2 separate regions of the Homo sapiens genome follow, and region 1 is linked to region 2. A link means that fine-mapping ties the variant in region 2 to the expression of a gene that starts in the linked region. Tissue or cell type: whole blood. Region 2 holds a variant in brackets; the other region holds the start of a gene. All regions are shown on one strand. Distances are from middle to middle.

Region 1 (5,146 bases), 40 kb before region 2:
TAATCCAAGGAGATGGCAACTGATCTTACCAAAAGATGTTTAAAATACTTTCTGTAGACATGTTGAACCCCACCAAACCAATCCCCCGACACTCAGGAATATTCTCTTGAAAACTAAATAGAGGGGAAATAGAGGAATAAACTAGCTGATAAGGGCCAGGCATGGTGGCTCATGGCTGTAATCCCAGCACTTTGGGAGGCTGAGACGGGTGGATCACGAGGTCAGGAGTTCAAGACCAGCCTGGCCAAGATGGTGAAACCCCGTCTCTACTAAAAATACAAAAATCAGCTGGGCATGGTGGCAGGTGCCTGTAATCCCAGCTACTTGAGAGGCTGAGGCAGGAGAATAGATTGCCTCTGTGAGGCAGCAGAGGTTACAGTGAGCTGAGATCATGCCACTGCACTCCAGCCTGGGCAATAGAGTGAGACTGTCTCAAAAAAAAAAAAAAAAAAGGCTGATAGGCCCATTGTATTCAGTTAAAGGTGAGGGTTGGGGGCTTAAAGGTAGAGCACCCAGCTGATTTTCATGGGCTGTCTGCTTGTAGACAGCCTTGGTAGGTTCTGGACTTGATAGGCTCTGCCTTGATTACTGCAGATCCAGGGCAGCTGAGGACAAAGACAGAGAAAGGACAGTGCTGCTGGGGCAGTCAGATCTTAGAAGGTTCATTCAGACCAGATGCCAGAACACTTAGAGGGAAGGCAGCCATAGGGAAAGGGTTACAAATATAAATAATTACATAGGAAAAAAAATCCTGTTGAAACTTAGAAATATTTGAAAAGTAAAAACAAAAGCAAAAACCCAAGAAAACAAAAAACAACAACAACAAAAAAACAGAAAACCCCCCATTACTGTAAATAAAATTCCTGAAATGCTATGATCATGTATTTAATATAAGCAACATAGTAGCCCTAAAATGAGAGGTGGGATAAAGTCAAAGGTAGTCTGTCCTAGAAACAGCACCGCTCTGGGAGGGGGATCTTGAGACCAGAGTTTGCATTCCTTGGGCAAGTCAGTCAACCATGCCCCGATTCAGCTTCTTCATCTGTGAAATCAAGAATCTCTTCCAGCTTTATGACTCCACAGAAAGGGCAGGAGAAGAGAAAAGAAGGCTTGCTTACATCTGCCCGATGTCTGGTTACCAGCGCATAGCCAGAACAAGGCTGAGAGCCAGAACAGCTGGCCTTCCAGAGAAGGTCGCCATGTAAACACAAGGTGGGATAGGACACAAAATATTAATAAATGCAGCCACACTGACCAGGAGGAAGCTTTTCAAGGATAGGGCAGAGGACAGAGAGACAGAGAGGGAGCAGGGCACTGGCTTTTGGTACAGACAGCAAACACATGAGAGATCGAGGCAGAAAACCACCATCTCCACAGGCTGCCCTGGATCGGGCCATGCTGTCCCGTCCTCTCCACCTGGATAGGGAGAAGCAGGGGTATGACCATGTCTCTCTTCAGGATGTTCAACCAGGAATGCAAAATAAAATTACATGGATCCCTTGCAGGCTGCAGTGGCTCACACCTATAATCCCAGCACTTTGGGAGGCTGAGGCGGGTGGGTCATTTGAGGTCAGGAGTTCAAGACAAGCCTGGCCAACATGGTGAAAACCTGTCTCTACTAAAAATACAAAAATTAGCTAGGCGTGGTGGTGCATGCCTGTAGCCCCAGCTGCTTGGGAGGCTGAGGCAGGAGAATTACTTGAACCAGGGAGGCAAGGCTGCAGTGAGCTGAGATCAGGCCACTGCACTCCAGCCTAGGCAACAGAGCAAGACGCCGTCTCAAAGAAAAAAAAGATTTACATGGGTCCCGTTCCACCTCCTTTGCATGGGAAGGTTGGGGGAGCAGCACTGTAGGATTTCCTGGGCAACCAATGCCCAGGAGGCCAGCCTAAACCATGTCCCCTGCTTTTTGGGGCACTGGCTAGGTTCTGAATGTTGGTGTCTCCCCTAAATTTATATGTTGGAAACCTCATTCCCAAGATGATGGCATTAGGAGGTGGGACCTTTGGGAGGTGACTAGGTCATGAGTGCAGAGCCCTCAAAATTGGGATTAGTGCCCTCAGAAAAGAGGCCCCAGAGAGCTGCCTTTCCCCTGTGAGGACACGGGAACCAGAACTCTGGCCCTCGCCAAACACCTAATCTATTGACACCTTGATCTTGGACCTCCCAGTCTCCAGAACTGTGAGAAACACGTTCTATTGTTTATAAGCCACTCAGTTTATGGTATTTTGCTATAGCAGTTTGAAGGGACTAAGCCAGGACTCCAGCTTTCCTTTCTGGCCTCTGCTGGGAAACAGCTCCTGCTCTGTGGTCACAGTCTTGTGGGCTCCCCGTTCCCTGAGCTCTGAGTGGGCTCAACAAAGTGAAATGTGGAAGAGGAAAAAGAGATCTGGGGCTTGACCAGACTTGTGTGTCCCAGGACATCTGCAGTGACTGCCTTCAGAAAACCTTCCAGGAAGAACGTCAGTCATGCCTTCCGGGAGCTCAGGTCTGAGGCATCTGGTTGTACCACAGCCCTGATGGCAGGGGACTTCAGACTGCTCATGCCGGCCTGGCACTTCCTGATTCGACTTCAGCAAGGCAGGCAATGTTCTAGAACCTGACCTCCGATTTAAACTGAGTTTCTCCTTCCCTTGAGCAAGGAGGACAGTGAATCAGAAGGACGTAGATCCCCTCACTGTATCACTGTGTGTGTATCTACTCACTGTGCGTGCGTGTTCTCACGGCCCCATTGCATTATTTAAAGGGACACTAGTTTATTCGGATGGAGAGCTCAGTCCACCCCACGTCAAGCTTATGAAGCCCATTTCCTGGCCCCCTTCTAGGAATGTCGGGAGGAGGGTGTCGCGTGGGCTTTGAAGTAGGACAGACCTGGGTTTGGGTTTCTGTTCTGCCACTTGTCCTTGGTGACTGAGCCTCAGTCTACTTGGTTGGGAAATAGGACGGTCGGGAGTGAACCCGCCCAGGGTGGGCTTCCAGTCACCCGCACATATGCGGGGCACTGGCCGCCCATCCCTGCCAGGCCCCGAGGATGCCCGCGCTCGTCCTCGGCGTCGCGGGTTGGGCGCGCTCCCGGGCGCATTCCCGGCCGGGCAGCCCCTCCTCCCTCGTCCTTAGCCCAGGGGCCGGCGCCTCCCCGCCTCGCGCGGACTGTCTCGTGCGGGCAGCTGCGGGCGCACCTGGACCCTCGCAAGGCCCGGGCGGCGCCGATCCCCGCGGGACGCGCTGCGCTCGGGGCCTCCCGCCTCCCCCCCTGCCCCAGCCGCCCCCCGGCCGCGCGGCGCCCCGCACCCTGCAGGGACGGCTGCCGCATCGCTGGGACAAACTCGGCAGCGGAGGCAAAGTTATTTCCCCTCCCAGGCAGCGGGATTCCGACTGGCAAGATGGTGCCCAGCTCTCCGCGCGCGCTCTTCCTTCTGCTCCTGATCCTCGCCTGCCCCGAGCCGCGGGCTTCCCAGGTCAGTGTCCCTCCCGCCTCTCTCCAGGCCAGTGTCCCTCCCGCCTCTCTCCAGGCCAGTGTCCCTCCCGCCTCTCTCCAGGCCAGCGTCCCTCCCGCCTCTCTCCCCTGTCCCTCCCGCCTCTCTCCCCTGTCCCTCCCGCCTCTCTCCAGGTCAGTGTCCCTCCCGCCTCTGTCCCCTGTCCCGCGCGCCTCTCTCCACGCCAGTGTCCCTCCCGCCTCTCTCCAGGCCAGCGTCCCTCCCGCCTCTCTCCAGGCCAGCGTCCCTCCCGCCTCTCTCCAGGTCAGCGTCCCTCCCGCCTCTCTCCAGGCCAGCGTCCCTCCCGCCTCTCTCCAGGTCAGCGTCCCTCCCGCCTCTCTCCAGGCCAGTGTCCCTCCCGCCTCTCTCCAGGCCAGCCAGTGTCCCTCCCGCCTCTCTCCACGCCAGTGTCCCTCCCGCCTCTCTCCAGGCCAGTGTCCCTCCCGCCTCTCTCCAGGCCAGTGTCCTTCACGCCTCTCTCCAGGTCAGTGTCCCTCCCGCCTCTCTCCAGGCCAGCGTCCCTCCCGCCTCTCTCCAGGTCAGCGTCCCTCCCGCCTCTCTCCAGGCCAGCGTCCCTCCCGCCTCTCTCCACGCCAGTGTCCCTCCCGCCTCTCTCCAGGTCAGTGTCCCTCCCGCCTCTCTCCAGGCCAGTGTCCCTCCCGCCTCTCTCCAGGCCAGTGTCCCTCACGCCTCTCTCCAGGTCAGTGTCCCTCCCGCCTCTCTCCAGGCTAGTGTCCCTCCCGCCTCTCTCCAGGCCAGCGTCCCTCCCGCCTCTCTCCAGGTCAGCGTCCCTCCCGCCTCTCTCCAGGCCAGCGTCCCTCCCGCCTCTCTCCACGCCAGTGTCCCTCCCGCCTCTCTCCAGGCTAGTGTCCCTCCCGCCTCTCTCCAGGCCAGCGTCCCTCCCGCCTCTCTCCAGGTCAGCGTCCCTCCCGCCTCTCTCCAGGCCAGCGTCCCTCCCGCCTCTCTCCACGCCAGTGTCCCTCCCGCCTCTCTCCAGGTCAGTGTCCCTCCCGCCTCTCTCCACGCCAGTGTCCCTCCCGCCTCTCTCCAGGCCAGTGTCCCTCCCGCCTCTCTCCAGGCCAGTGTCCCTCCCGCCTCTCTCCACGCCAGTGTCCCTCCCGCCTCTCTCCAGGCCAGTGTCCCTCCCGCCTCTCTCCCCTGTCCCGCGCGCCTCTCTCCATGCCAGTGTCCCTCCCGCCTCTCTCCACGCCAGTGTCCCTCCCGCCTCTCTCCAGGCCAGCGTCCCTCCCGCCTCTCTCCAGGTCAGCGTCCCTCCCGCCTCTCTCCAGGCCAGCGTCCCTCCCGCCTCTCTCCACGCCAGCGTCCCTCCCGCCTCTCTCCACGCCAGCGTCCCTCCCGCCTCTCTCCACGCCAGTGTCCCTCCCGCCTCTCTCCACGCCAGTGTCCCTCCCGCCTCTCTCCAGGCCAGCGTCCCTCCCGCCTCTCTCCAGGCCAGTGTCCCTCCCGCCTCTCTCCCCTGTCCCGCGCGCCTCTCTCCACGCCAGTGTCCCTCCCGCCTCTCTCCAGGTCAGTGTCCCTCCCGCCTCTCTCCAGGTCAGTGTCCCTCCTGCCTCTCTCCAGGCCAGCATCCCTCCTTCCTCTCTCCCCTGTCCCGCGCGCAGGGGAGGCAGCACCAAGGCTGGGGGACCCGGGCTTGCCACTTTCCACTC
Region 2 (5,146 bases):
TTCCACAGAAGTGTCGTGTAGATGAGCAAGGAACGTCTCCCTTTACCAATGTTAAGGAAATGTCAAAAAACTCTTACCTGGTCAAGCACAGTAGGGCTTCTGGTTGGGAATTTGGAGAATTCATTTTCCCCAACCCTGGACATTCCAGTGGGCCATCCCTCCCCTTTATAACTGCACTGAATTTTGTTCCTGTTTAAAAATGTTTCTCCCAGGTGCTGGCTGATGGAGCAGAAGGGTTGTGGGTTACAGGGCCTGACTCAAAGGCAATGTGGGCAGATGCCCACAGGTAGCCACTTCTGTCTGGCTACAGCTGTCTACACTGCACCTTTGCAAATTAGAAAATGGTGCCTGTGGGTGGGGTATGGCCAGCTCATAGGCCAGCTCCTGCATGCAGAGCCCCAGGTGGGCAGTGTGTGCCTGGGTGCAGGGCCTGCTGAATGGAGATGCAATAGGGCTGCATATCAGCCCCATCGGCCCCCTGGCAGCTCTTGCGGGTGGAGAGGGTGGAAAGAGTGGGTGGGGTCAGGTAGAAAGTGGGAGTTCTCCTACAATGTAAAGGAAGTTAACCCTTCATCAGTTTTTTATTGTATTTGTTTTAGACCTAGAACTCACATCCGTATATTTGAAAATTATTTATCTTCCTAGGTATCAGTGAATGCTCCAGCCAGCCTTGTCAAAATGGTGGTACATGTGTAGAAGGAGTCAACCAGTACAGATGCATTTGTCCTCCAGGAAGGACTGGGAACCGCTGTCAGCATCAGGCCCAGACTGGTATGTAGCCACCATGGGGTTAGGTGAGGACATCCTGCTGTGGGGAGAGGAGGACCCTAGGCATAGGTCCCCAAATGCAGACATGTAGGGAGCTCAGTCCCCCACTCAAAGATGTAGCTTTTCCTCTCTGTTTCACATCCACCGATCCCTCTGGTTTTCTAAGGTGGTCACTTGACAGAGCTTAGCTCTTTGATGCAACCAGAGTTTTGACCCTTCTTATAGTAGAAAACACAAGCGCAAGAACTGACTCCCAACGTAAAAATCCCCTAGATTGGGAATGTGGCCCAAGAAGTTTCACTGTTGCCACCTTTGCTTGGTCAGCATTTCTTACGCCAGCAGAACCACCTTTTCTTTCCAGTGTTCCCATTACATCTTGCAAAATTAGCAGCTATTGATGCAGGCCCAAGTATTTTGAGAGCTGGATAACTATACATTTGACTGGTTTTGAGATTACTATTCACATCTTGAGTCTCAACATATCTCGACCCAGAGAGTCTAAGAAGTCACGTGGTGCCTGGTTTTGCATATGGCAAGAAAATCCAGTGATAAGGAATCTGTGGAGGATGGACAGGGGTTCCCGCACCATGATGCAACCAAGATTTCATTCAGCCCCAAAGATATCCTATTCCTTAGCCACAAAAGTCTGGTGTGTTATGCCTGTTTGTCTTTATTTCTGTATGAAATATCTGTGGGGGGAAGGGACATTGGGGCTAGTGCAGTGTCCAGTGGATAAGAGCTTTATCAATACTTATGATCCTGGCACTGGACCCAGCCCAAGCTCAGGTTTAAATAGTGCCCCAAGAGATTTGCTGCTTAATATGCCCTGATTCAGTTCAGCTGAGTCAGCTGGCTGGGCACTTTCTCAAAATGAGGCTGTCCTCCCGAGCTCAGAGGCCCCTTACAGCTCCTGTCCCTGGAACTGCTTTCTATGGAAACTGAGGCCAGAGACAGGGCTTTCTTGGAGACCTCACTGCCTCTCCCCTTGTTTACAAACAAGAGGGAAAAAGAAATGGGTTCCCTTCTGCCCTAAATATGCCAGTCCTGGTCACTGAATGTTCTAAACCCCACTCTTTAGGGTTTCCTCCCACTGTGGGATTTTTTTTTTTTTTTTAAGATGGGAGTCTCACTCTGTTGCCCAGGCTGGAGTGTGCAGTGGCACCATCTCAGCTCACTGCAACCTCCGCCTCCTGAGTTCAAGTGATTCTCCTGCCTCAGCCTCCCGAGTAGCTGGGATTACAGGTGTCTGTCACCACTCCTGCCTAATATTTGTATTTTTAGTAGAAACGGGGTTTCACCATGTTGGCCAGGCTGGTCTCCAACTCCTGACCTCAAGTGATCTGCCTGCCTTGCCCTCCAAAAGTGCTGGGATTACAGGTGTGAGCCACCATGCCCGCCCAAGGATCTTTAGACAATTGTTGCTCAGGTCCAGGGGGGCCTGTTATAAAGTGTCCCCATGGCCAGAATCTTCCCCAGGAATGGGAAGGAGGGGAAGCAAGCAGGCATATCCAAAGCCAGCTCCTATCCTCATAGTCTCCATGAACAGCCATCACGCATCTGGGCTCTTGCTCACCTTGTCCCTCAGCCTGACACCTTCCTTCCCATCAGCTGGCCCATGCCTTTCCAGTTCCCTGGAGGAGCATCCCTCCAATTCCTTTTTTAAAAATCCATTCACCCTATTTTTTATGATGATAAAACATATATATAACATAAAATTTACCAGTTTCATCCTTTTTAACTGTACAGCTCAGTGGCATTAATCACATTCACATTGTTGTGCGACCATCACCACCATCCAGCTCCAGAATTCTTTTTGTCTTGCAAAACTGAGCTTCTGTACCCATAACAGGACAACTCCCCATTGCCCTCCCCACAGCCCCTGGTAATCACCATTCATTCTTCTTTCTGTCTCTGTGAGTCTGACTGCTCTAGGGACCTCATCTAAGTAGAATCATGCAGGATTTGTCCACTTGTGTTTGATTCCCATCAATCCTTGAAAAACTTTCAGAAAAATAACATTTTTTCCTGATTAGAAATATAATTTGGCCAAGCATGATGACTCATGCCTGTAATCCCAGCACTTTGGGAGGCTGAGGTGGGTGGATCATTTGAGGTTGGGAGTTTGAGACCAGCCTGGCCAACATGGTAAAACCCTGTCTCTACTAACAATACAAAAAAAAAAAATAGCAGGGTGTGGTGACGTGCACCTGTAATTCCAGCTGTTCAGAGGCAGAGGCAGGAGAATCATTTGAATGCGGGAGACAGAGGCTGCAGTAAGCCGAGATCGTGCCACTGCACTCCAGCCTGGGTGACACAGCGAGACTCTGTCTCAAAAAGAAAGAAAGAGAGAGAGAGAAAGAGAAATTTATGTTCCTGGCAAAAACCAAAAATGTGAACACTTTAGAAAAGTACAAGAAATACAAAAAAAAAAA[C/A]CAAAAGAAAACAAACAAAAAAAAACCAGGAACAAAAAATAGTGGCCCATGAACAGACCAATAATGAGCTCTGAAATTGAATTGGTCATAAATAGCCTACCAACCAAAAAAAGCCCAGGACCTGACGGATTCACAGCCAAATTCTACCAGATGTACAAAGAAGAGCTGGTACCATTCCTACAGAAACTATTCCAAAAAACTGAGGAGGATGGACCTCTCCCCAACTTATTCGATGAGGCCAGAGTCATCTCGATACCAAAACCTGGCAGAGACACAACAAAAAAAGAAAATGTCAGGCCAATATCCTTGATGAACATTGATACAAAAATCCTCAACAAAATACTTGCAAACCAAATCCAGCAGCACATGAAAAAGCGAATCCACCATGATCAAGTAGGCTTCCTCCCCGGGATACAAGGTTGATTCAACATATAAAAATCAATAAATGTGATTCATCACATAAACAGAACTAAAAGCAAAACTACATGATTATCTCAATATATGCAAAAAGGCTTTTGATGAAATTCAACATCTCTTCATGTTAAAAACTCTCAACAAACTAGGTATTGAAGGAACAGACCTCAAAATAATAAGAGCCATCTATGACAAACTCACAGCCAACATTGTACGGAATGGGCATTCTCCTTGAAAACTGGCATAAGACAGGGATGCCCTTTCTCATCACTTCTATTCAACGTAGTATTGGAAGTCCTGGCGAGAGCAACAGGCGAGAGAAAGAAATAAAGCGCATCCAAATAGGAAGAGAGGAAATCAAACTATCTCTGTTTGCAGATGACATGATTCTATATCTAGAAAATCCCAAAGTCTCGGCCCAAAAGTTCCTTCAACTGATAAACAACTTCAGCAAAGTTGCAGGATACAAAATCAATGTAGAAAAATCACTAGCATTCCTATATACCAACAACAACCAAACTGAGAGCCAAATCAGAAAGACAATCCTATTCACAATTTGCCACACACACACAAATAAAATACCTAGGAATACAGCTAACCAGGGAGGTGAAAGATCTCTATAATGAGAATTACAAAACATGGCTCAAAAAAATCAGAGAAGACACAGACAAATGAAAAAACATTCCATGCTTATGGATACAAAGAATCAATATCATTAAAATGGCTACACTGCCCAAAACAACTTACAGATTCAATGCTATTCCTATCAAACTACCAAAGACATTCTTCACAGAACTAGAAAAAAATTACTTTAACATGCATATGGAACCCAAAAAGATCCTGAATACCCAAGGCAATCCTAAGCAAAAAGAACAAAGCTAAAGGAATCACATTACCCAACTTCAAACTATACCACAAGGCTACAGTGACCAAAACAGCATGGTACTGGTACAAAAACAGGCACGTAGACCAATGGAACGGAATAGAGAGCACAGAAATAAGGCCACACATCTATGACCATCTGATCTTTGACCAAGCTGACAAAAACAAGAATGGGGAAAAGACTCCTATTCAATAAATGGTGCTGGGATAACTGGCTAGCCATATGCAGAAGACTGAAACTGAACCACTTCTTACACCACAGACAAAAATCAACTCAAGATGGATTAAAGAGTTAGATGTAAAATCCAAAACTACAAAAACCCTGGAAGACAACGTAGGCAATACCATCCTGACAGAGGAATGGACAAAGATTTCATGACAAAGATACCAAAAGCAATTACAACAAAAGCAAAAATTGACAAACGGATTCTAATTAAACTTAAGAGCTTCTGCATAGCAAAAGAAAGTATCAAAGGAGTAAACAGACAACCTACAGAATGGGAGAAAATATTTGCAAACTATGCATCTGACAAAGGTCTAATATCCAGCGTCTATAAGGAACTTAAATTTACAAGAGAAAAACAAACAACCCCATTAAAAAGTGGGCAACGTACATGAACAGAAACTTCTCAAAAGAAAACCTACAACAG

What was found. PIP is the estimated chance that this variant, and not a neighbour inherited with it, causes the effect.
Region 1: it holds the start of FBLN7, and the variant in region 2 is fine-mapped to the expression of FBLN7 in whole blood (TOPMed, PIP 0.92).

What each region holds. Positions count from the first base shown.
Region 1 is chr2:112,135,273-112,140,418 of GRCh38, forward strand. FBLN7 (fibulin 7) reads left to right here and starts at 3,113. Exons shown (of 8, transcript NM_153214.3): 1 at 3,113-3,458. The coding sequence starts at 3,384. RefSeq lists an enhancer at 4,930-5,146.
Region 2 is chr2:112,175,069-112,180,214 of GRCh38, forward strand. FBLN7 (fibulin 7) reads left to right here. Exons shown (of 8, transcript NM_153214.3): 4 at 646-771. Among named protein-coding and RNA genes, the nearest start is that of FBLN7, 39 kb to the left of the region's middle. The variant C/A (reference allele first, on the strand shown) is at 3,201.